Linked DNA regions of Homo sapiens. The protein of the gene in region 1 binds, or shares a complex with, the protein of each later gene. Each region holds a gene or a part of one and is shown on either strand. Other genes may lie near its edges. The genes, in order: PSMB10 and PSME4.

Region 1 (11,349 bases):
ATACTTGAGCCCCAGTACTGCCGGCACTGATTCACAGTGACCAGGGGCAAAGCCACCTGCTGCAGATGTGCTGGTGTCACATTGCCTGTGGGCCAGGAGGGGTGGTCACATGGGGCCCAGAACACTGGTCCCCACCCCAGTCCTCCCACCCTGAGCTTTGGCCTGAGTCCCTACCCACGCCACTGAGGCGACCCCAGCCGGTGGTGACACACGTGAGGCCTTCAGTCAGAGCCTCGTTTGAGGATGCCAGGCAAACTGGCGAGATGCGTGTTGTGTACTGGGCTGGCGAGGCGAGCTTCAGCAGCGTCACGTCATTGTTCATGGTGGTAGAGTTCCAGCTAGGGTGTGTAATGGCCTGTGGGGTCAGAAACAGTCCATGTTCTGATGGGTGCTGAGCAGGGTAGGCCAGGGCATGTCCTGAATTCCTCGTTCCCAGCACCCACCCACCTGCACTGCCCACTTTTCCTCCGTGTCTGCAGCCCAGGCACTCACCCGAGAGACGGACAGAACCTGCAAGGGCTCTGCGTTTGATGATCGGTCATACTCGCCCAGGACAACAAAATGGCGGCCAGGGCTGCAAGGGGGTGGGATTAGGCAGCTGCAGGGAGGCCAGCGCGAGAGGGGGACAGCCAGGGGAGGAGGCAGGAAGAGGCGAGGGGCGGGGCAGGTGGAATGCAGGCACTCACCTGACATTGCAGTGGGCAGCAGTGACCACCCAGGACTGGCTGATGAGAGAACCACCGCAGAAGTGGAAGCCGCTGCTGTCCTGTGGTCAGGGCTCAGAGGTCAGAGTGGGGGTGGGCTGCTGAGGCTGCCCCTAGGCATGACGTACCCAGGACCCTGCCCACCCCTCTGGTGGTGTACCTGCAGGGACACCTGCCAGGGCCAGGAGCCCAACACTGCATTCTCCCCGTTGACAATCCTCTGGCTGAAGCTCAGTGCCGGTTTGATGGCAGGAATGCCGCAGCCTGGCCATTGGGCTAATGAGGACCTGCTTCCCATGCCTCAGCCCATCTTTCCCCACCTCCTTTTGGGTGCCCCAGGCTGTGCACCCCAGAGAGGTCTGTCGAGAGGGTACAGCACTACCCCTTCCCCAACAGGGTACATGCAAGCACCTTCGGGCCCCACAGCTATCTTGGTTATCCCTATCCACCCAGTCCCCCAGCCCTGCTGTTCTCCTACATCTGTCTCCAGCCTAGTCCCCGCTGTTCCCCATCTCTACCCCTGGTCTCTCTGCCCCCTCCCGACCTGAACAGTTCATACCCTTCATGCAGCCAGAAGGTTCTTTCTAAAAGACATGGACAGGTCTTCCTGTCTCAGCTTCCTAAACCCTCCCGGGCTCCAGGGCCTGGCTCAATCTCTGGTCCTATTTGTGAGACCACCCCACCTCTTGCCCCCTCCCAGCCCTGCAGGCCTGTTCCCTGCTCCACTGCCCTGGCATATCCTGTTTCTTTTGCCCACTCTGTCCACCTTCGTCCCTTCCAGCCAGCCTAGCTCCTTCCCTGGGCTGTTGCTGGGAGCTGAGTTGCTCCCAGGGCTGAATCAGGGCTGGTCCTGGCCCACTCACCCCAGGAGGAGCCGAGGAGAACCAGGCTTAGGGTCAGGCTGAGCAGCAACATCGTGGCAGATGTGAGGTTGGGAGCTGGGTCTGGCTTTATGGGTCTTCTCGTCCTTGAGCTAAAGCTCCAGGCCTGAGGCCAGGCCAGCTGTGTAGACTCAGCCCCCTCCCACGCTCCAGGCAAGACAGGCCCTTTAGGCCAAGGTCCCCTGACCGAGACCTAGACTTATCAGACAGAGCCCAGGTGTGAGACTCACCTCTGCCACCTCCCAAAGCCTGGCCTCTAATTGGCTCCCAGAACCACCTCCCATTCCAAATGTTGAGCCCTCGGTACTGAGGACAGATGGTTAAATTAGGTCTATAGTGACAACCTGGTGGCTGGGATCACAGGAGTCACCCAGGGCTAACAAAGGCACCAGGCTTTCAGAGAAGGCCGCTCAGCGTCCAGGGTGTTCTGACTGGTGGATGGAATGCTCACTGCGGTCAACTTTGCTGTGAAGGGCCAGGGGCTGTGAGGTTCTGGCAGGCTGGGAGTCCTAACACATCATCGCAGTGGTTCCTCGTCCATTTGGAACAGGAGTCACAGGTCTGCTCAGAGATGGTGACTCTCCCACCAGCACGTGGTTGAGTTGTACACAAACTCGCATTTGTCTGGCGCTGAAGCCTCCGCTCTTAACAATGAGATGATACTTATGAAGGGCCTGGCATTTAGGAGGGCAAAGTGTGAGCTCTTGGTGCCTGGCCGACCGTGGACTGAGGCTGCAGGTGGAGAGTGACAGACATCAAATCTCTGCCACCCTCTTTAGGCCTTGGGGCTCCCATGGGCAAGCCCCTGGTGTCTGTAGCCCATTTGTTACTGAGCTGCAGACCAAGCTTGAAGGGAGAAGACACCCTGTGTGCAAAGTTCCAACAGGTGCATTGGCTGGCGGCCTTCTGGGAGTGTGAGGGCTTTAACTGATTCAAGAACAGATCAGGGCTGGGTGTGGTGGCTCACACCTGTAATCCCAAAACTTTGGGAGGCAGACGTAGGAGGCTTGATTCCAGGAGTTCGAGACCAGCCTGAGCAACATCATGAAACCCTGTCTCTACAAAAAAAATTTTTTTAAATTAAGAAATGAGCTGGGTATGATGGTACACACCTGTAGTCCCAGCAACTCAGAAGGCTGAGGCAGGAGGGATCACTTGAGCCCTTAAGTTCAAGGCTGCAGTGAGCCATGAGTGCACCACTGCATTCCGGCCTGGGCGATGGAGCTAGACCCCATCTCAAAGAAACAGCATCAGCCAAAAAATGAGATGAATTGGCTGGGCACGGTGGCTCACGCCTGTAATCCCAGCACTTTGGGAGGCCGACGCGGGCGGATCATGAGGTCAGGAGATCAAGACCATCCTGGCTAACAGGTTCAGTAGAAACCTCGTCTCTACTAAAAATACAAAAAAAAAAAAAATTAGCCGGGCGTGGTGGCGGGCACCTGTAGTCCCAGCTACTCGGGAGGCTGAGGCAGGAGAATGGCGTGAACCTGGGAGGCGGAGCTTCCAGTGAGCTGAGATTGCGCCACTGCACTCCAGAGCCTGGGTGACAGAGCGAGACTCCGTCTCAAAAAAAAAAAAAAAAAAAAGGAGCGATGAATTAATGGATAGAGGGATGAATAGATGATAAAACAAATATAACAAAATATTTGCACTCCAGAGCCTGGGTGACAGAGCGAGACGCCGTCTCAAAAAAAAAAAAAAAAAAAAAAAAAGGAGCGATGAATTAATGGATAGAGGGATGAATAGATGATAAAACAAATATAACAAAATACTGTCAGGTCTGTGGTGACCTGACAGTATAAGGGTATTCAATATACAACTCTTTCTACTTTTCTGTTACATTTACAAATGTTCATTAATAGAATGTTGGGGTGCAGGGAGCACACTCAGCGGCCTGGGGATGTGCAGCCCGGCATAGACCCTCCCTGGGCCCTGGGTAGACTCTCCCTGACATTTCTGAAGCTCCAGCGGAGTTCAGCCGTTCTCGCTGAGGACAGGATGCTCTTGCTGGCACCCAGCAGCCAGGCCTGAGACTCAGCAGGGGCCCAGCAAAGGTTTGTTGGAGAAACGTGTCATCTCTCCCCATGTGAGTCCTGTGACCCTTATTAGCCTGGAAAACTTGGAGTCACAAGCCCAGCATGTGCAGACAGAAGACGAGCTTCACGTGAGCAGTGCAGGCATGCCTCGTCATCTAAGGGGTGTCACAGGTAAAGATGTTGCGAGGTTGAGGAGTGCTTGGTGAGAACTTGCCTTGGAGTCAGGGAGCGGCTCCTCTTGTCAGCACTTTAGCCCTCAGTGGGGCCTGTGGGGGCCTGATTGAAAGGTATGAGCTTTGTCCTGGGCCACTGAGGAGCCATGGAAAGTCTCTAGGAGGGGGTAGTACATGGGGTATTTCATAATTTACAAGTCTCCAGTGGACTAGAGGGCAAGAGCAAGACAGTGGAGTGGTGGGGGAGCCTTCAAGTGTGGAGTCAGAAGGAAGGTTTGGGTGGAGACCAAGCCTGCAATGCTGGCCAGGGCTGGGGTTCTGGAGTTGTAGGTGCCTGAGGTTATGGGTGAAGGGCATCTCTTAGGCCAGACACTAGAGCTATGGTAGGTAATGGCCCCTGCAGGGACGCCTTAGCTACAGAGCCCTGCTGGCTGCCTGCCCACCCCATTCCACTCAAGAATGACACAGCCATCTGTTTAACTGTATTTTCTGGGTTTATTCCCCCTTGTTCCAAGCTCTAAGCCTCAGCTTACTCCACCTCCATAGCCTGCACAGTTTCCTCCACTAGCTCCAGGGTTAGTGGCTTCACTGTCTGGGTCAGGACAGCTGTGGTTCCAGGCACAAAGTGGTAGCGGCCAGACCTGGGAGGGAGGAGGGACAGCCTCTGAACATGGGCCTGTCATGTGGCCCATCCCCTTTTTGCAGCCCCCTATCTCCCCTGCTATAGCCCCACACATCCCTGTGGTCCCCGATCTCCAGCTCTCACCTCTTCACGGGCTCTGTGGGTGAGCTCAGTGTCCGCAGCAGCTTGGCGCCAGTCTTTGTGATCACACATGCGTCCACATTGCCCCCGGAGCCCAGGTCACCCAAGATCCCGGCGGTGACGGCTTCCACCAGCAGCCCCTGAGCAGCCTCCAGCTGCGGTGATGGGTGTGTGAGACCTAACGGGCTCTCTCTGCTGTTAACTTAGGCTACAGCCTGGGGACTTGCCTGTCCACTTACCCAATCTGGTCTTGCCCTCCAAACCCCCACTGTGTTTCTCCCTCTGAGCCTTAGCCACCTCTGAGGCAACATCACCTGCTTCCATCCCACCCCAAACAAAATCTAGGCTCCAGACGTTGATATAAGTAGGACCCTACTGGTCCTTCTCTCCGCCCTCGGCTCCTAAAGATCCTCTGTGAGCTTCGACTTCTCCCAGCCGTGCAGGCTTTGGTATTGGACGGTGTTATGTCGGGACCGCACTTCTCTGCCCTTACTCCACTCACCCTTCAGTGGTCACCTCCTCCGACAAGCCTTAGCCACCCGCACTGGGCCAGGGTCCTGTGCTCCCCCAGCTCCCGGGTGCACATCCCACCAGCGACCACAAAGTCGGGGACAGAGGCCGCTCACCGTCATGTTCGGCTGGAACCGGTCTTCTAGCACCGCCAGGGCCGCGTCCTGACCAGAGCCTGAAGGCAGGAGAAGCATCTGAAGTCAACCGCTGCGACGCCGTTTGGAGTGAGGCCAAGGTCACAGGGGCAGAGTTCGAGGAGAAGGGACAGAAGCGCTCACCCAGGGCTGTGAAGGGCAGACGGCTGTAGGAGCCATGGGGATGCACACCGTAGAGCTGCGGTCCAGTCAGGTCTACGCCGCCCACGATCAGCGATGCACCCACGTGGCCCTGGTACCTGCTCGAGGATGGGCGGGGTCGGCCACAAGCTGGGGCCTAGGCCCCACCTCTCTATGCCCAGCTCCTAGGTGCTATCCCCGCCCCTTCCTGTGGGCTGGCGCCCGATGACTGACATCGCCTTTTCCTGTAGCCCAGGTTCTCTTGGGCCGGCCTCTTCCGGTCACCTGGCCCGTCGCGGTCCCGCCCTTCTTTCTGTCCCGCCTTCCAATGGCCCCAACCCCGTAACTACCCCTGCCGGGGTCCTGTTAGCCCTGCCCCCGCACCTGAAGAGCGTCTGGCGCAGGATGCGAGTGACCGTGGCCACGCGGGGCTCGCGGCCCGTAGATAACGCGTGTAGCTCCATCTTGGACGCCACCATCCGTGTGGTCATCTCGGCGTCCGCGGCTACTCCAGCCCCACAGCAGCTGAGGCAAAAGGGAGGATCGGTGTGGGCAGGGCTGGGACGTGCGGGGACCGGAGTGGGAACGAGGGGGCCGTTCTTTTTTGCGTACGGGAACTGGGCTCGGGAGTCTCACTAGATTTTGGGGGCGATGAAGTGGATCTTCTCGCAGCTCTTGTCCGCCACGACCGAATCGTTAGTGGCTCGCGTATCGGCGCCCAGAATGACCCCGTCCTGAGGAGAGGGAGGGACCGCAGCTTCAGTGCCTGCTCGATACTCTCGGCTCCCCTCCAGCTCCCCGTCCCTCCCCGCTGCTCACTTGGAACACCAGGCCCGCGATGGTGGTCCCGGTCTTGCGTGCGTGAGGGACCTTGAGCCCCGGGAGGACGCGTTCCAATGATGCATTTCTGGAAACGGAGGAGGGCGCCCATGTTTCGGCTCTGCTTTCAAGACCCCTGTTGCTTCCCCTAACCTGGTCCCCGTCTCCCTCATCTTCCGGGGTAAGCCTGGAACCCAAGTCGACCAACACACCCTCCCCCACCCCCAGCCAGGAAAAAAGGCCACGAGCAAGCAGAGGCGGCTCAGGAGTGACCGCCCCCCGCGCCCCCGCTTCACCTTTGGCAGTTCTCGAAGGAGAAGCCCCCTCGGGGCTCCAGGGCTGGCTTCAGCATCTTGGGGCAGGCAGAGGGGATTAGGGGTCGCGGGCGGATGAGTCGGCCAGACAAGCGGGGCCAGTGAGCAGCTAAAAAGTCCTCTGCTAGGCTTCACGTCTGTACTTCCTGCTTTCGCTTTCGCCTTTACCCTTCCTCAAAGGCCCGTGGCGGTTTTCTGCATCTTGTCTTTCACTTTTGGCTTCACTTGTGGCTCTGAGCATTTGGGGAACCGGGTGATGTCCCTTGCTGTGCCCTCTGTGCTGCTCACTGGGTACTCTGTTGGATAGAGGGACAAATCTCTTCCCTTCTGGACTTGTTCAGGTCCTCCTCCCCCTCCATCTGAGCCCCTTGCTCTTACCCTAGCCTCAACTCTGACCTCCAGTCCCAGCATAGTAAAGCTCTCAGAGCCTTGGCCAAGTCAGCATTGTTGCTGGCCACCCAGTAGCATCAGGCATAGCTGACTTTTGTTCCTTGTCACCTTTCTTCCAACTCTTGCCTCTTTTGTTGCCTTTACTCCTCTGCAAAAACCTCAAACAGAGGCTCAGTCCTCAGTCACAGGGACCCTGGTCTTTCCATCTTCCATCTCAGGTGCCATCTTCCCTCTCTCAAGAGGGCACCATGGGTGTTGGGTTCCACTCATGGCCAAGCCTTGTTATTTCACCTCCCCAGTGACCTCTTGTCTGCACACATCCTTTTCCTAGCACTTCTAGTCTCAGCTAGCATCCTCTCCCACCTGGACATTGCACTGGCCTCCCTGGTTACCTTGCAATTCTTGCCCCCCGCCCCCCGACCCCCAGGCTACTCCTTACCCTGCAGAGAGCGGGTCTTTCTAAATTGGAAATCTGGTCACATTCTTTCTCTGGTTTAAACCCTTCAGCAGTCTGGGCCTGGTGGCTCACACCTGTAATCCCAGCACTTTGGAAGCCCAGGAGTTCGGGGCTGCAGTGAGTATGGATCATACCATTGCACTCCAGCCTGGGCAATAGACCCCGTCTCAAAGGGGGAAAAAAAAGACTTGGGTTTGAGGCTAAGAGCAGCACGCAGCTGCCAAAGGGTTTATCTTAATTTTTTTTTTTTTTTTTTGAGATGGGGTCTTACTCTGTTGCCCAGGCTGGAGTACAATGGTGTGATCTCGGTTCACTGGAACCTCTGCCTCCCAGGCACAAGCACTCTTCCACCTCAGCCTCCTGAGTAGCTGGGACCACAGGCACACACCACCATGCCTGGCTAATTTTTTTTTTTTTTTTTTTTTTTGGTAGAGATGGGGTTTCACCGTGTTGCCCAGGCTGGTCTTGAACTCCTGAGCTCAGGCGATCCACCCTCCTCAGCCTTCCAAAGTGCTAGGCTTATAACCATGAACCACTGTGCCTGGCCTATTTTACGGTTTTTTTTTTTTTTTTTTTTGGACACAGGGTCTTGCTGTTGCTCAGGCTGGAATGCCGTGGCACCATCTTGGCTCACTGCAACCTCTGCCTCCCAGGTTCAAGCAATCCTCCCACCTCAGCCTGCCTAGTAGATTTGACTACAGCTGTGGCTACACCTGGCTAATTTAAAAATAAATTTTTTTTTTTGAGACGGAGTTTTGCTCTTGTTGCCCAGGCTGGAGTGCAATAGTGTGATCTTGGCTCACCGCAACGTCCACCTCCCAGGTTCAAACAATTCTCCTGCCTCAGCCTCCCGAGTAGCTGGGATTACAGGCATGCGCCACCATGCCCGGCTAATTTTGTATTTTTAGTAGAGACGGGGTTTCTCCATGTTGGTCAGGGTGGTCTCAAACTTCTGACCTCAAGTGATCCGCCCACCTCGGCCTCCCAGAGTGCTGGGATTACAGGCATGAGCCACCGCACCAGGCTAATTTTTAAAATTTTTGTAGAGATGAGGTCTCACTATATTGCCCAGGCTTGTCTCGAACTCCTGGGCTCAATCAAGTCAAACCCAAGTCTTTTTTTTTTTTTGAGACGGAGTCTCGCTCTGTCGCCCAGGCCGGACTGCGGACTGCAGTGGCGCAATCTCGGCTCACTGCAAGCTCCGCTTCCCGGGTTCACGCCATTCTCCTGCCTCAGCCTCCCGAGTAGCTGGGACCACAGGCGCCCGCCACCGCGCCCGGCTAATTTTCTGTATTTTTAGTAGAGACGGGGTTTCACCTTGTTAGCCAGGATGGTCTCGATCTCCTGACCTCATGATCCACCCGCCTCGGCCTCCCAAAGTGCTGGGATTACAGGCGTGAGCCACCGCGCCCGGCCGAACCCAAGTCTTTACAGTGGTCCATTACTCTTCTTGTCACTCTGACCTCAGTGTAGGCACTGCCTCCTCTGGGAAGTCTTTGCTGACCTGAAAGGCTCAGCCTCTTGTGCTTCCTAAGCTTTTCTCAGAGCATTTAGCTTCATTAGTAATTAAACTTCCATTAGTGAAATGATCTGATTAATGGTTGTCACTCCCAGATTTTAATTCTAACTTTTTTTTTTTTTTTTTTTTTTGAGACCCAGTCTCTTTTTTTTTGAGACAGTCTCATTCTGCCGCCCAGTCTGGAGTGCAACGACGTGATCTCGGCTCACAGTGACCTCCACCTCCCAGGTTCAAATGATTCTCGTGCCTCAGCCTCCTGAGTAGCTGGGACGACAGATGCATGCCACCACGCCTGGCAAATATTTTGTATTTTAGTAGAGACGGGGGTTTCTGCCATGTTGGCCTGGCTGGTCTCAAACTCCTGAGTTCAGGTGATCCGCCTGCCTCGGTCTCCCAAAGTGCCAGGATTACAGGCGTGAGCCACCGTGCCCGGCCTCTAAACACTTGTGGCCCTGTCATTCACCCAGCACTCAAAAGGTCGTCTCACCTGCCCTTTTGGGAGCTGGGAGAGACAGCTCAAATTGTCACCGCCCCCCCACCGCCCCGTGCTCCTCTGACAGGGCTGTGGGTGGAGCCAGCTCCAGTCCCCGCGCCCAGCACAGAGGCAGGCACGGTGCACACTGCCTCAACAGCTCGACCAGGAGAGTGGGCAGCTGTACATCTAGGGTGCCCAGCTCAGTCCCAGGCCTCAGCAGAGCCCATCTTGCCTCACTGCACACAGCACTGAGCCTGTGGCTGGTGAGGAGTGAAACCTAGTGTGGGACTCTAGTGCCTCCCTTCAACCTGAAACATAGCCATCAGGGCTTACGGTAGCAAAGGAAGGTCTTTATTCAGGAGGCGGGGGCTCTGGGCTGGCAGTCGGGGATGCAGGGGGACCCTGGCGGTAGGCACCCAGCAGGATGGCATTGATGTGCTCCAGGGTCAGGTTGCTGAAGACCATGTTGAGATGCTGTATCCCGTGCAGGGGCAGCAGGTGCACAGGCTGTGGCTGGCGGCCCTGCCACAGGCCACAGAGCTCGGTGCTGCGGGTCGCCACCGTGTCATCACCATCCTCATAGAGCACACCCACAGGGTCCGTGTAGGGGAAGCCGTGGTCGTAGATGTAGGTGCGGGGCGTGGGCAGGCCCACGCCGTAAAGACAGTATACTTCCACACCAGGTGCTGGGAGTCCTGCCAGGAGGTCACGTGACTGCAGCCACATGTACCAGCCTTCCTCAAAGTGCAGGTCTGCAAAGAAGCGTTGGAAGTCACGGCCTGTGTAGTTGAAGCTGGGTGTGGAAATGAACACGTGGTCCTCAGGCCACGCCATGCGAGAGGGAAACATCCAGGGGGAGGTGGTGGTTATGCGCTGCTCCTCTTTCAGCTTGATGCTGGACATGATGGGGATGCCCTGGTTGTCACCTGTGGATATGGAGCAAGGTGGGACAGGGAGCCAGGCCTGGCTACCCCTGGCCCACAACCTGCTGAGTGTAGGCTCAGCCAGATGCTCAATCTTGTCCCTGCCCAATCTAGACACAGACTCTAAGCCACAGGCTTGAGCAGGCCTGATATTCAATGATGCTCAGTGTCAGCTTACTCAATGAGAAGCCCTGATAAGACCTCTGTTGGGTGGAGCTGTAGGGCTTCAAAAGGATGGCAGGGACAGGCACCATGGCTCACCCCTGTAATCCCAACACTTTGGGAGGCTGAGGCAGGAGGATCACTTGAGGCCAGGAGTCCGTGACCAGACTAGGCAATGCAGTGAGACCCTGTCTCTACAAAAAAAAAAAAAAAAAAAATCAGCTGGGCTTAGTGGAGTGCACCTCTAGTCCTAGCTACTCAGGAGGCAAAGGCAGGAAGATTGCTTGAGCCTAGGAATTTGAGGTTACAGTAAACTATGATCGCACCACTGCACTGTAGCCTGGGTGACACAGTGAGATTCCAGCTTAAAAAATAAATAAATAGGGCCGGGTACGGTGGCTCACACCTGTAATCCTAGCACTTTGGGAGGCCGAGGCAGGCAGATGACTTAAGGTCAGGAGTTCGAGACCAGCCTGGCCAACATGGGGAAACCTAATCTCTACTAAAAATATAAAAATTAGCCAGGCGTGGTGGCACATGCCTGTGATCCTAGCTACTAGGGAGGCTGAGGCAGAAGAATCACTTGAACTGGGGAGATGGAGGTTGCAGTGAGTGGAGATTGCACTACTGCACTCCAGCCTGGGAAACAGAGCGAGACTCCATCTCAAAATACATAAATAAACAAATAAACATTTTTTAAAAGGCCCAGCACAGTAGCTCACGCCTGTAATCCCAGCACTTCGGGAGGCTGAGGCAGGAAGATCACTTAAGGTGAAGAGTTTGAGACCAGCCTGGGCAACATAGCAAGACCTCATCTCTACTAAAAAACAAAAATAAATTAGGTGTGGTGTTGTGTGCCTATAGTCTCAGCTAACCAGGAGGCTGAGGCAGGAGGATTGCTTGGGCCAGGGAGATTGAGACTGCGGCTATGATCACGCCACTGCA
Region 2 (10,865 bases), on another chromosome or scaffold:
CCGTGCAGCTCCAAGAGCTGTGGCCCGGGGGCCTCTTCTGGACCAGGAAACTCTCCACGTAAGTGTGCCCGGGCCTGCGGGCCGGGCCGGGGGGAAAGGCTCAGTGAGAGGTGTCGGGGATGGTTGCTCTTTGTCCAGAGGGCTGGACCCTTAGCTCTGTCCTCGCTGGAGCTGTCCCCGAGCGGTGATCCCAGGGTCGTGACAGAGCCTGTGAAGTACTCAAGCCGTCCTCCCTGCCACTTTCCTACGGGACTTCCCGGGTCTTTACCATCCCTCTACGTCCTCCGCATCTGCTTCTCCCGAAGTGTTCGGGTTGTTGTCTTCCCACCTGGGGGGCCCTGGGTAGCCCAAGGGCCCCGGCCCCGAGGGAGAGAGGTGAGCCTTTCTCAAGGGTCCTCCGTGGACTTTTGCGCATGGGAGAGGCGGGGCAAAGAGAATTTGTCTTTGGGGGAGTTCCTTGACTTGTCTCCTTGCTTCCTCCGGTTCTTCCTTCCCCTACGATCCCCGCCTCTTCGCATCTCCGTTGGCGTCTAGTAACTTTCTGAATGGAGAGAAGACCATAGGGAAACTTAAGGGTTTTGCTTTTTGGGGGCCCTCTCAGACCTGGCGGAGTTGATCGAAAAGGGTCGTTTAAAGTCAGACCTCATTCTTGAGCTTAACGTCTTATGTGGACAGTGTTGTTTTGGATTGTGTGTTGCTCCTGTTGTGACATTTCTTTTGGAGAGACATTTAAGATACTGAGGAAAGTAGGGAAGAGCACTGTCAGGATGTCCAGGGCGATATTAGTATCAGGCTTGTGTTAATTTTTTGAGTTACTCAGATTAAGAGATTACCTAAATCAGTTTCAGGAGTTCTGTTTGTAAACTAGCTTCAAACTATAGTGTCACTGAAATTAGGAAAAAAAAAAAAAAAACGAGTGAAAATACAGTGGGGGAAAAAAGGTTACATTTACTTGCTGGATGGGCATCTTTACTGTGTCCGAAGAGCTTTTTAAGAAAGAATTTTGCTGTATCTTGTTTGGTTAACTGTACATAAAATCTAGTAACATGGTATGTTCACGCATGTGGGTATGGACGGGTGAACACACAAGACATAACTCACTCATTCAGTGTTTACCCAAAGCTGCTGATTGAACTGAGTGATGACTCAGGGTTTTGTAATAGTTTTGTGTATATTCACTGGATGATTCTCATCTGCCAATTATTAAGGGGCCTCTGACAAATTTCTCATTTCCACTTGAGGGGTGGGTGGGACCTTTTTAATTAAAAAGAAGCAAAACTAAAACATGTAATTTGCCCTCTTCAGAGAGTGATCATAAAATGTCAAGGTTAACAGCTCTCCCCTTGACTAGAGTATAATGAAGTTTTTCGTGTTAGGATCCTTAGGAGAATGGAGGTGAGGGGCGGCAGAAGCAGGAATGCAACAGGGAGAACCACGTTTAGTCAAAAAAGAATATTTTATAAATAGTTAAAATCCAAATGCTTTTTCAAGTGAGACTCCTAGGTTTTTGTGTTGCTCAGGCACAGTAAAAATAGTCACTTTGTTACAGTAATTCCCCATTTTAATCACTTGGATTAGACTTGCCAGAGAATACCTACCATTTTTGGGGACGCAAACAGCTTTTTTTAGTGTACATTATATAAATATGCCATGGTGTGAAGGCATATCTGCTTTGGATTTATAAACCTAGAATCTACCAAGGCATAGTTAAGCATTGTTTTCTAAAGTATTTATTGTTAACAAGTTTGGTAAATTAGCACTCCGAGTTTTGTTATTGTTTTGGCTTATTAGATAAAAGTTTGTACCTAGAAAGGGCTAAAAATAACAATGGAGCTAATGTTTGGTGTTTAGGGCTGGATTGCAGATAGCTGATGGCTTAATACCCATGAACCCATAACCATTTATAGCTAAATAACCAGCAAGAAATGCTACTGGGTAGAATTTTATTTTGGAATAGTGGTTAGATGCTGGAAACTGATTCTTGATATTGCACTATGAGACATTTTGAATGCGGTGGGACATGTTGTGATCTTGGGTGTGTTTTTTTCCTAAGTCATGTTAAGGTGACCTGTTCATAGTTGTGCTTGTTGTTTTTTAAGCCTTCTGTGTTGCATAAGTGAACATCTGAATAATGCCAAAACGTGTGACGAAAGCTGAGTGGTGATCATATTTAGTACTTTGTAGAATAGAAAGTGGTAATGAAAAGAAAATCTAGTTTCTCCCACTAGCTCTGAGACTGTGGGAAAGTTACTTAATCATGTGTTTCAGTATGCTTGTGCGTGAAATGAGGGGATTGGACTAAATAATTCTTTTTTTTTTTTTTTTTGAGGTGGAGTCTTGCTTTGTTGCCCAGGCTGGAGTGCAGTGGCAGGATCTTGGCCCACTGCAATCCCTGCCTTTCGGGTTCAAGCGATTCTCCTGCCTCAGCCTCCCAAGTAGGTAGGATTATAGGCGAGTGCCACCATGCCTGGCTACTTTTTTTGTATTTTTAGTAGAGACAGGGTTTCACCATGTTGGTCAGGCTGGTCTTGAACTCCTGACCTCAAGCAATCTGCCCACCTCGGCCTCCCAAGGTGCTGGGATTACATGTGTGAGCCACCGCACCCGGCCTGGACTAAATTCTTGAGAAGCATTTCTACTCTGGTATTCTGCAGTTTTATTTTTTTAATCCTGTCAAGCTTCACATCAGTCATTGTGTGTATCTTTCTACAAGAACTGTTTGAATAATTTGTAAAATACTGGAAACAGTTGCATAGATCAAGTACATTCCTAAAGACCAAAGTGTAAATGCAGTTGAGAGTTAGTGGGACTATCTTGCTGATCAGAAATGTGCACCCGTAATCTGGACATCAGAGGTGTGTTTGGGACCAAGTTCTGGTTTGGAAGGTTCTCAGGCTTTACATTTGGTCCCTCTTTTTGACTTTTTTTTTTTTTTTTTTTTTTTTTTTTTTGAGACAATCTCACTCTGTTGCCCAGACACAAGATAGTGTAGTGGCACTATCGTGGCTCACTGCAACCTCCACCTCCACCTCCCTGGTTCAAACGATTCTCCTGCCTCAGCCTCCTGAGTAGCTGGGATTACAGTTGTGCGCTGCCACGCCTGGCTAATTTTTGTATTTTTAGTAGAGACGGGGTTTCACCATTTTGGCAAGGCTGGTCTCGAACCCAGGTGATCTGTGTGCCTCGGCCTCCCAAAGTGCGGGATTACAGGCTGAGCCACCGCCCCAGCCTTCTTTTTGACTTTTTTCTTCATTTTTAGTAGTTCAGTCCATTTAGAAACTTGCAGGTCTGTTTAACATCTCTGAAGAAAGGTTATTTCTATATTTTTAAATACTTGGCCATGTGATAGAGGCTTTCCTGTACAGACAATTTAAAGTACTAGAACTGTCTGGTCAAGAGAGGTTGTGTGATGTAACACATCACAAGGGAAATTTTTAATAAGGGAAGAAACAAATCAGAGAAGTTGAAACAAATTAGAGAAAGTAGGAACAAATTAATGGTCTTTGGACAATGGCAGACAGCTCATGGACACTGTGAGTGAAATATTGGTAGATAACTTGTATGGCCCATGTAGAGAATGAAGGGAGTTGAAGAAAGGTATTCTTAAAACTTGATTTTGTTATGCCTGTAATCCCAGCACTTTGGGAGGCCGAGGCAGACGGATCACGAGGTCAGGAGTTCGAGACCAGCCTGACCAACATGGTGAAACCCCATCTCTACTAAAATTAAGAAAATTAGCCTGGCATGGTGGTGCACGCCTTTAATCCCAGCTACTCAGGAGGCTGAGGCAGGAGAATCGCTTGAATCTGGGAGGTGGAGGTTGCAGTGAGCCAAGCGCCACTCCAGCCTCGGCAAAAGAGCGAGACTCCATCTTAAAAACAACAACAAAGAAAAAAACCCCAAAAAACTTGATTTTGCCCTCTTGCCTTTCTGGACCTTTCATGAGGGGCTGCGGGTGCTCGTTAGAACACCTCAGGTTATCTGTACGTGAGGTGTATCTGGCCTTGCCTCCAACATTATTATCTTTTTTTTTTTTTGGAGACAGAGTAGCTGGGATTATAGGCATGTGCCACGACGCCTGGCTAATTTTTTTGTATTTTTAGTAGAGACAGGGTTTCCCCATGTTGGCCAGGCCAGTCTCAAACTCTTGATCTCAAATGATCTGGCCACCCCGGCCTCCCAAAGTGTTCGGATTATGGGCGTGAGCCACCGTGGCCTGCCTAACATTATTATCCTGGCAAGATTTTAGATTATTAGTGGTTTTTCAAACTTTAAATTAAGTAGTGGAGTGTTTTATTTTTTATTTTTATATTTTTTGAGACAGAGTCTCGCTCTGTCATCCAGGCTGGAGTGCAGTGGCACAATGTCGGCTCACTGCAGCCTCTGCCTCCCAGGTTCAAGCAACCCTCATGTCTCTGCCTCCAAGTAGCTGGGATTACAGGTGAGTACCACCACACTTGACCAATATTTGTATTTTTATTAGAGAGGGGGTTTTGCCATGTTGCCCAGGCTGTCTCAAACTCCTGGCCCCAAATGATCCGCCCAAGATCTCGGCCTCCCAAGGTGCTGGGATTACAGGCGTGAGTCACCATGTAGTGCCAGTAGTGGAGTGTTAAAAAACCAAATTTTGGCTGGGCGTGGCGGCTCACGCCTGTAATCCCAGTACTTTGGGAGGCTGAAGCAGGTGGATCACAAGGTCAGGAGTTCGAGACCAGCCTCACCAACATGGTGAAACCCCGTCTCTGCTGAAAATACAAAAAAAAGTTAGCCGGGCATGATGGCGGGTGCCTGTAGTCCCAGCTACTCGGGGGGCTGAGGCAGAAGAATTGCTTGAACCCGGAAGGCAGAGGCTGGCTGCAGTGAGCTGCGATTGCACCATTGCACTCCAGCCTGGGCGACAGAGCGAGACTCTGACTCAAAAAAAAAAAAACAAAAAAACACACAACCAAAATTTTAAACTTGAAATTGGATTCCTCAGGCAAATTAAAACCCCACTCATTAAAAAAAAAAATACTTCCTTGATAGTAGAACTCTTGAAACCTCCTCAGGGCTCCACAACATACTGCTGGAAAAATCACTTGGATGCGCTGGGTGTGGCGGCTCACGCCTGTAATCCCTGCACTTTGGGAGGCTGAGATTACTTGAGGTCAGGAGTTCCTTGGCCAACATGGTGAAACCCTGTCTCTACTAAAAATACAAAATTTAGGCTGGTATGGTGGCACTCGCCTATAGACTGAGGCAGAAGAATCGCTTGAACCTGGGAGGCAGAGGCTACAGTGAGCCGAGATGGCGCCACTGCACTCCAGGCTAGGCGACAGAGGGAGACTCTTGTCTTACAAAAAAAAAAAAAAAAATCACTTGGCCTTTCTAGTTCTTTGTTCCTTTTAAACTGGTAAACTGGTCTGGAGGAAAGGGCGGGAAAAGGATGGAGAATAAGCGAATGGATTACTGTTTCCTACAACTTATCCCATCCATGATTCGTGTGTGTGTGTGTGTGTCTGTGTGTGTGTGTGTTTAAACAGAATTTTGATTTTAGTGAAGTATGTGGGTTTGGTGTAAGATGAAGCAAATTTAGATTCCCTGTTTGCTACAGTGACATGTTTTGTATTGTTTTATGATTAAGTGACTATATTATAATGTGAAGTCATTTTAATTGCTAATTAAAACTGTGGCACCCTTTAGAATTGAAAGTACAGTTGTTTTATTATTACAAATATTATGCAGCCTTCGTGGATTGATTATCCCAGTTGAAACCACATAATGTATTTGATTAGATTATGTAACCACCAGAAACTTAGGTGTAGTCAAGGTATGAGTTATCAAATACACAAACCTTCTCTTGTGGAAAGTAATAAGTGGCCACAGGAGCACCCACATTCATATCATCCCCGTGTTGGGAAAGAAAGGAAATGCTAACTGCTGAATCTGCATTGTCTGGTATGAGGCACCTAAGAGTATCTAATGTTTGAGTATTGAAATTGAAGTACACAATAAATGCAAGTGGTTTTATTTGTAAATGAATCTTGAAATCTTGACAAGTTACCAAACTCATCAGTGAGAACCAGTTAGAGAGAGTGATAGAAGAGGTTTTACTTTGTTGTTAAGTGATCATTCAAAATGGGAACCAAAATTTCTTTGTAGTGAGAAAGTTGATTTTCCATAAGGGGAAAAAAAAGGAACTGATTTTGGAGAACATGAATTTCTTTGATAAAGTTGTATAATGTAATAGCACAATAAGACATATTTCATATTTGATTTTTTCAAAAATTTTATTTCTGAGAGCAATTTTAGGTTCACAGCAAAATTGAATGGAAAGTATAGAGTTCCTGTATACCCTCTGTCTCTACACATGCATACATTTGATTTTTCATGATGATGTCACACATATACTTTTTTTTCAAAAATATTTGAGGCCCTTACTGTTTTCCAGAGATCTCTCAGTAATTTCTTGAAAACAGCTTGTCGTTTTCTTTTCACTAGTTAATTGGCTATTTCTTCCTGAACATCACTGGCCAATGAGCATATGTGTGTTTCTGATTTGAAGTTTTCTAATATTTAAACTCTTTTCATTACATATTTTTTATTATGAAAAATATCAAATATTCAAAAGACAATATAATGAACCTCATCACCTATCTTCACTTAATTAACTCATGGCCAGTTATGTTCTTTTCATCATCCCCTTTCCCCATTGTTTTTGAAGTATATTATTTATTCATGAATGTTTCCAGTATATATCTTCAAAGGAAAAGGAATTTTTTAAAAAAAGCAATACCAATACTATTATAAAACCTAAAAAAATTAACATCTATTATCACTTTGATCAATCTCATAAGGTTCTGCTTCTTTGCCAAATTTGTGATTTTACTTCTGAGTTTCCATTTCATTTGCATTTTTTTGCCTAAGGTTTACTGTAATCAAATCTCATGGACAGAGATCAAGAAAATAGCTCATTAATGAACATTTTCACATTATGACATCTTTCATTTCTGCCTTTTACCTTTGAAGACTTAGACTCAATCCTGGGGTAACAAGTATTCTCTTAAGTTACCTTCATTTAAAAAATGAAGACACAAGAGGCTCATAGGTTAGTGTACAGTCATGGGTTAATACAGTGTAGTAGAGGCAGACATCAATCTTCTTTGAACACAATTTTTTGAGTGCAATGCGTGGGCTGGGCACTGGTTTTGGCGTTTGGGATGTATCAGCGCAAGTTTTCTGCCCTCTGGAAGTTTCAGTGCGCTCTTTCTTTTTTGTGTGTTTTTTTTTGAAGAGATGGTCTTGGTCTCTTACCCAGGCTGGAATCATAGGGAGTGCAATCATACCCCCCTGTTTTAACCTTGAGCTCCTGGCCTCGAGCGATCCTCCCATCTCAGGCTCCTGGTTAGCTTGGACTACAGACATATACCACCACGCCAAGCTAATTTTTAAAGTTTTTCTTGAGACAAAGTCTCACTATGTTGCTCAGGCTGGCCTTGAACTCTTGGGCTCAAGTGATCCTCCACCTTTGCCTCCTGAAAGTGTTGGGAAAGTGTTGGGATTACATGCGTGAGCCACTGCATATGGTATGTGTCCTTTTTTTTTTTTTTTTGACACTGAGTCTCGCTCTGTTACCCAGGCTGGAGTGCAGTGGCGCGATCTCGGCTCACTGCAGCCTCCACTTCCTGGGTTCAAGTGATTTTCCTGTTTCAGCCTCCTGCGTAGCTGGGACTACAGGTGCAGCCACCATGCCTGGCGAATTTTTCTGTTTTTAATAGAGATGGGGTTTCACCTTATTGGCCAGGATGGTCTCGATCTCCAGACCTCATGATCCGCCTGCCTCAGCCTCCCAAAGTGCTGGGATTACAGGCGTGAGCCACCGTGCCCAGCTGTGTGCTTTATTCAGTGCACATTTTTGTTCATTTAGGACAGACTAGGCCAGGTGGTAACTTCATCAAAAACATTGAAGAAAATAGGAATTCTGAATGTATTATTTGAAAAGAAAATCTCATTCTGACCACTGTGTTTTAATGCCTTACTTTGAGGCACTAAGAAAGGCAGTTAGAAAAAAGAAATGTACCGTTTGATGTTCTGAGATCTGAATGTCACTTAAGAATGGTTTTCCCAAGTGTTCTTTCTGCAGTGTTGTAAAATAAAATTGTATTTGAAATACCTGTTGTTAATTGAAGTGGAGGCAAATTTTTACTGTTTTTTTTTTTTTGGCAAGCTTGTAAATAAGCATATAACTATATAACTTCTAAGAACTGTTTTTCTTATGGAACCTGGGAATTAACTTTTTTCTGCTAAATGAGACTTATTTTTAGAGAATCCCTTTCGCCCCTGTAAAAAGTAGAGGTTCCTCTTCAAAGACTTTCCTCCCCATCTAATTAGGAATAAATAGTAACTTCTCTTACAAGCAAAATTTATTCAAAGACCCTTGCAAACATTCTTAAATATCTGCTAGCCATAATGAAGAAATCAATGTACTTTATGTTCTTAGCTCCCACAATTTAGCCTAAATATTTGCCCTGGCATGCTTATACTGGTCCAAGCAAGCATTAGGTCATAGCCTGTTCCTCTTCCTTATTTGAAGGTGTTTTTATCTTTCTCAGCATTCCACAAGTTACTTCCTCCTTCCTTTGTTCTCTGCCTTTGCCTCTTTTAAAAAGTTCTAAGTTGCTAGCCAATCGGGACAAATACAGAATGTGAGGTCCCGTTCTAGCAAGTGGAAACCGGACACAACAGTAGGGTGGACGCTTCGGGTTATAAATGACCCTGTCTCCTTTGTTGGGTGTACTCTCCTGGCAAAACTGCTGGCGAGTGTACCTTTTCTGCAGAAAGTATAAAAATGGCCTTGCTGAGGAAATTAAATTTATGTTGAAGTGCTGTTTCTTTACAGCAATGGGGAATGAGCATTTCAAACATCCCCCTTCCCCCCCTTATTTTTAGACAGTCTTGCTCTGTCGCCCAGGTTGGAGTGCAGTGGCGCTGTCACAGCTCACTGCAAACTCAACCTCCCAGGCTCAAGCGATCTTCCCATCTCAGCCTCTGGAGTAGCTGGGACCACGGGCATGTATCAGCACACCCAGCTAGGTTTTTATTATTTTATTTTTATTTTTGTAGAGACAGGGTCTCACTATGTTGCCACGGCTGGTCGCAAACTCCTGGGCTCAAATCTTCCTGCCTCGCCCTCCCAAAGTGCTGGGATTACAGGCATAAGCCACTGCACCTAGCGCCTCTTCCCTCCTTTTCAAATACAAAAATCCTAATCTATGTTTCTGTCTAACCTTTGTAGAAAATTAGATCAAAATCTCATTCTATATGAACACCAAACTGAGAGCATGGTAGTAAAAACGGTAAGCAAACAACAACAGCAACAGAAAACCTCTACATTCATTGAGACCTCTATTGGAATGTTAAAAGCAGCACATACTATAAATATTCCCATTTGGAACCTTGAGGTTGACTACTTCTGTATTTGGTTTACACTTAACATTTCTTCTCTCTCTTTCTTTGAGACTGAGTCTTGCTCTGTCACCCAGGCTGGAGTGCAATTGTACCATCTTGCCTCACTGCAACCTCTGCCTCCCAGGTTCAAGCGATTCTCCTGCCTCAGCCTCCTGGGTAGCTAGGATTACAGGCATGCGCCACCATGCCCAGCTAGTTTTGTACTTTTAGTAGAGACTGGGTTTCTCCATGTTGGTCAGGCTGGTCTCGAACTCCTCACCTCACGTGATCCGCCTGCCTTGGCCTCCCAGAGTGCTGGGATTACAGGTATGAGCCACCGCGCCTGGCCAGTCCAGTGGTTTTCAAACCAGGTGATACATCTGTGGAACATAAAAAAAAATTCAAAAGCAACTGGTACCCAGAGCCCCACTGAAGAACCGTTAAGTTATAGCATCTTTCATGTACGTTTATCAGTCTGTCACCATAGCCTTGTGAAGAAAGCCAGATTTTATGGAGATTAAATGACTTCCCCAAGGGACTGACAGAGCAGTTTGAGTTCTTAACAGAGTTGTAGAACCATGCTGTTCCTGCTTACTTGGCTACTGGTTGAAATCAATAAATGTTATATCCAGAGTTGATTATGTTAGTTGCAAAGCAAACTAGAATAGAAACTTACAACATTTTATTCTGTTATTTCTCCTTGCCACCGAAATATGCATTCTTAATCTGCTCCTCTAGCTAGAGCTGTCTCCTGTGCCTTTTTTTTTTTTTTTTTTGAGATGGAGTCTCGCTCTGTTGCCCAGGCTGGAGTACAGCGGCCTGATGTTGGCTCACTGCAACCTCCGCCTCCCAGGTTCAAGTGATCCTCCCACCTCAGCCTCCCAAGAAGCTAGGATTACAGGCGCCCGCCACCATGCCTGGCTGATTTTTGTATTTTTAGTAGAGATGGGTTTCGCCATGTTGGCCAGGCTGGTCTGGATCTCCTGACTTCAAGTGATCCACCTGCCTCAGCCTCCCAAAGTGCTGAGATTACGGGCGTGAGCCACCATGCCTGGCCTCCTATGACTCTTAATTCTGCAGATGGTCAGATTATTTTGACCTCAGGTTGCCTCTTCAGGGTATAACTTAAGTGATGACAGCTTTCTAAACTTTCAAAGTCAATGACCACTTAATATATGATGAAAATTGGGCTAAAAAAATCAATCCACAAAAATCTGTTAATGCTTTATTTTATTTCACTTTTACATGTTTCGTCTTCCAGGTACTTGGAATGTCATATCTGACTGTCTTATTTGATTGCGAGTTGTTGGCCCAAAGGAACTGTTTGAGTCATTATTGTCTTGTATGTGTTGTTTGCTCTAGAAATGCTTTTTGAATATACAGGTAATTGAAAATAGGGGAGGTGAGTTTATGAAAAAACCTTTCCTCTTATTTGTTCA

Evidence for each region.
Region 2: PSMB10 (region 1) and PSME4 share a complex: the UniProt entries of both Homo sapiens proteins name them as parts of the spermatoproteasome.

Annotation. Positions count from the first base shown.
Region 1 is NC_000016.10:67,930,234-67,941,582, forward strand, and holds PSMB10 (proteasome subunit beta type-10), read right to left. Parts: upstream 6,618-11,349; 5' UTR 6,517-6,617; coding exon 6,461-6,516; intron 6,253-6,460; coding exon 6,165-6,252; intron 6,080-6,164; coding exon 5,982-6,079; intron 5,871-5,981; coding exon 5,730-5,870; intron 5,465-5,729; coding exon 5,349-5,464; intron 5,246-5,348; coding exon 5,187-5,245; intron 4,716-5,186; coding exon 4,564-4,715; intron 4,439-4,563; coding exon 4,327-4,438; 3' UTR 4,273-4,326; downstream 1-4,272. Other genes in the region: CTRL (chymotrypsin-like protease CTRL-1 precursor), read right to left, coding at 1-85, 175-355, 493-574, 687-766, 865-968, 1,568-1,619; LCAT (phosphatidylcholine-sterol acyltransferase precursor), read right to left, coding at 9,671-10,245. UniProt on the Homo sapiens protein: The proteasome is a multicatalytic proteinase complex which is characterized by its ability to cleave peptides with Arg, Phe, Tyr, Leu, and Glu adjacent to the leaving group at neutral or slightly basic pH.
Region 2 is NC_000002.12:53,959,736-53,970,600, reverse strand, and holds part of PSME4 (proteasome activator complex subunit 4), read left to right. Parts: coding exon 1-58; intron 59-10,865. UniProt on the Homo sapiens protein: Associated component of the proteasome that specifically recognizes acetylated histones and promotes ATP- and ubiquitin-independent degradation of core histones during spermatogenesis and DNA damage response.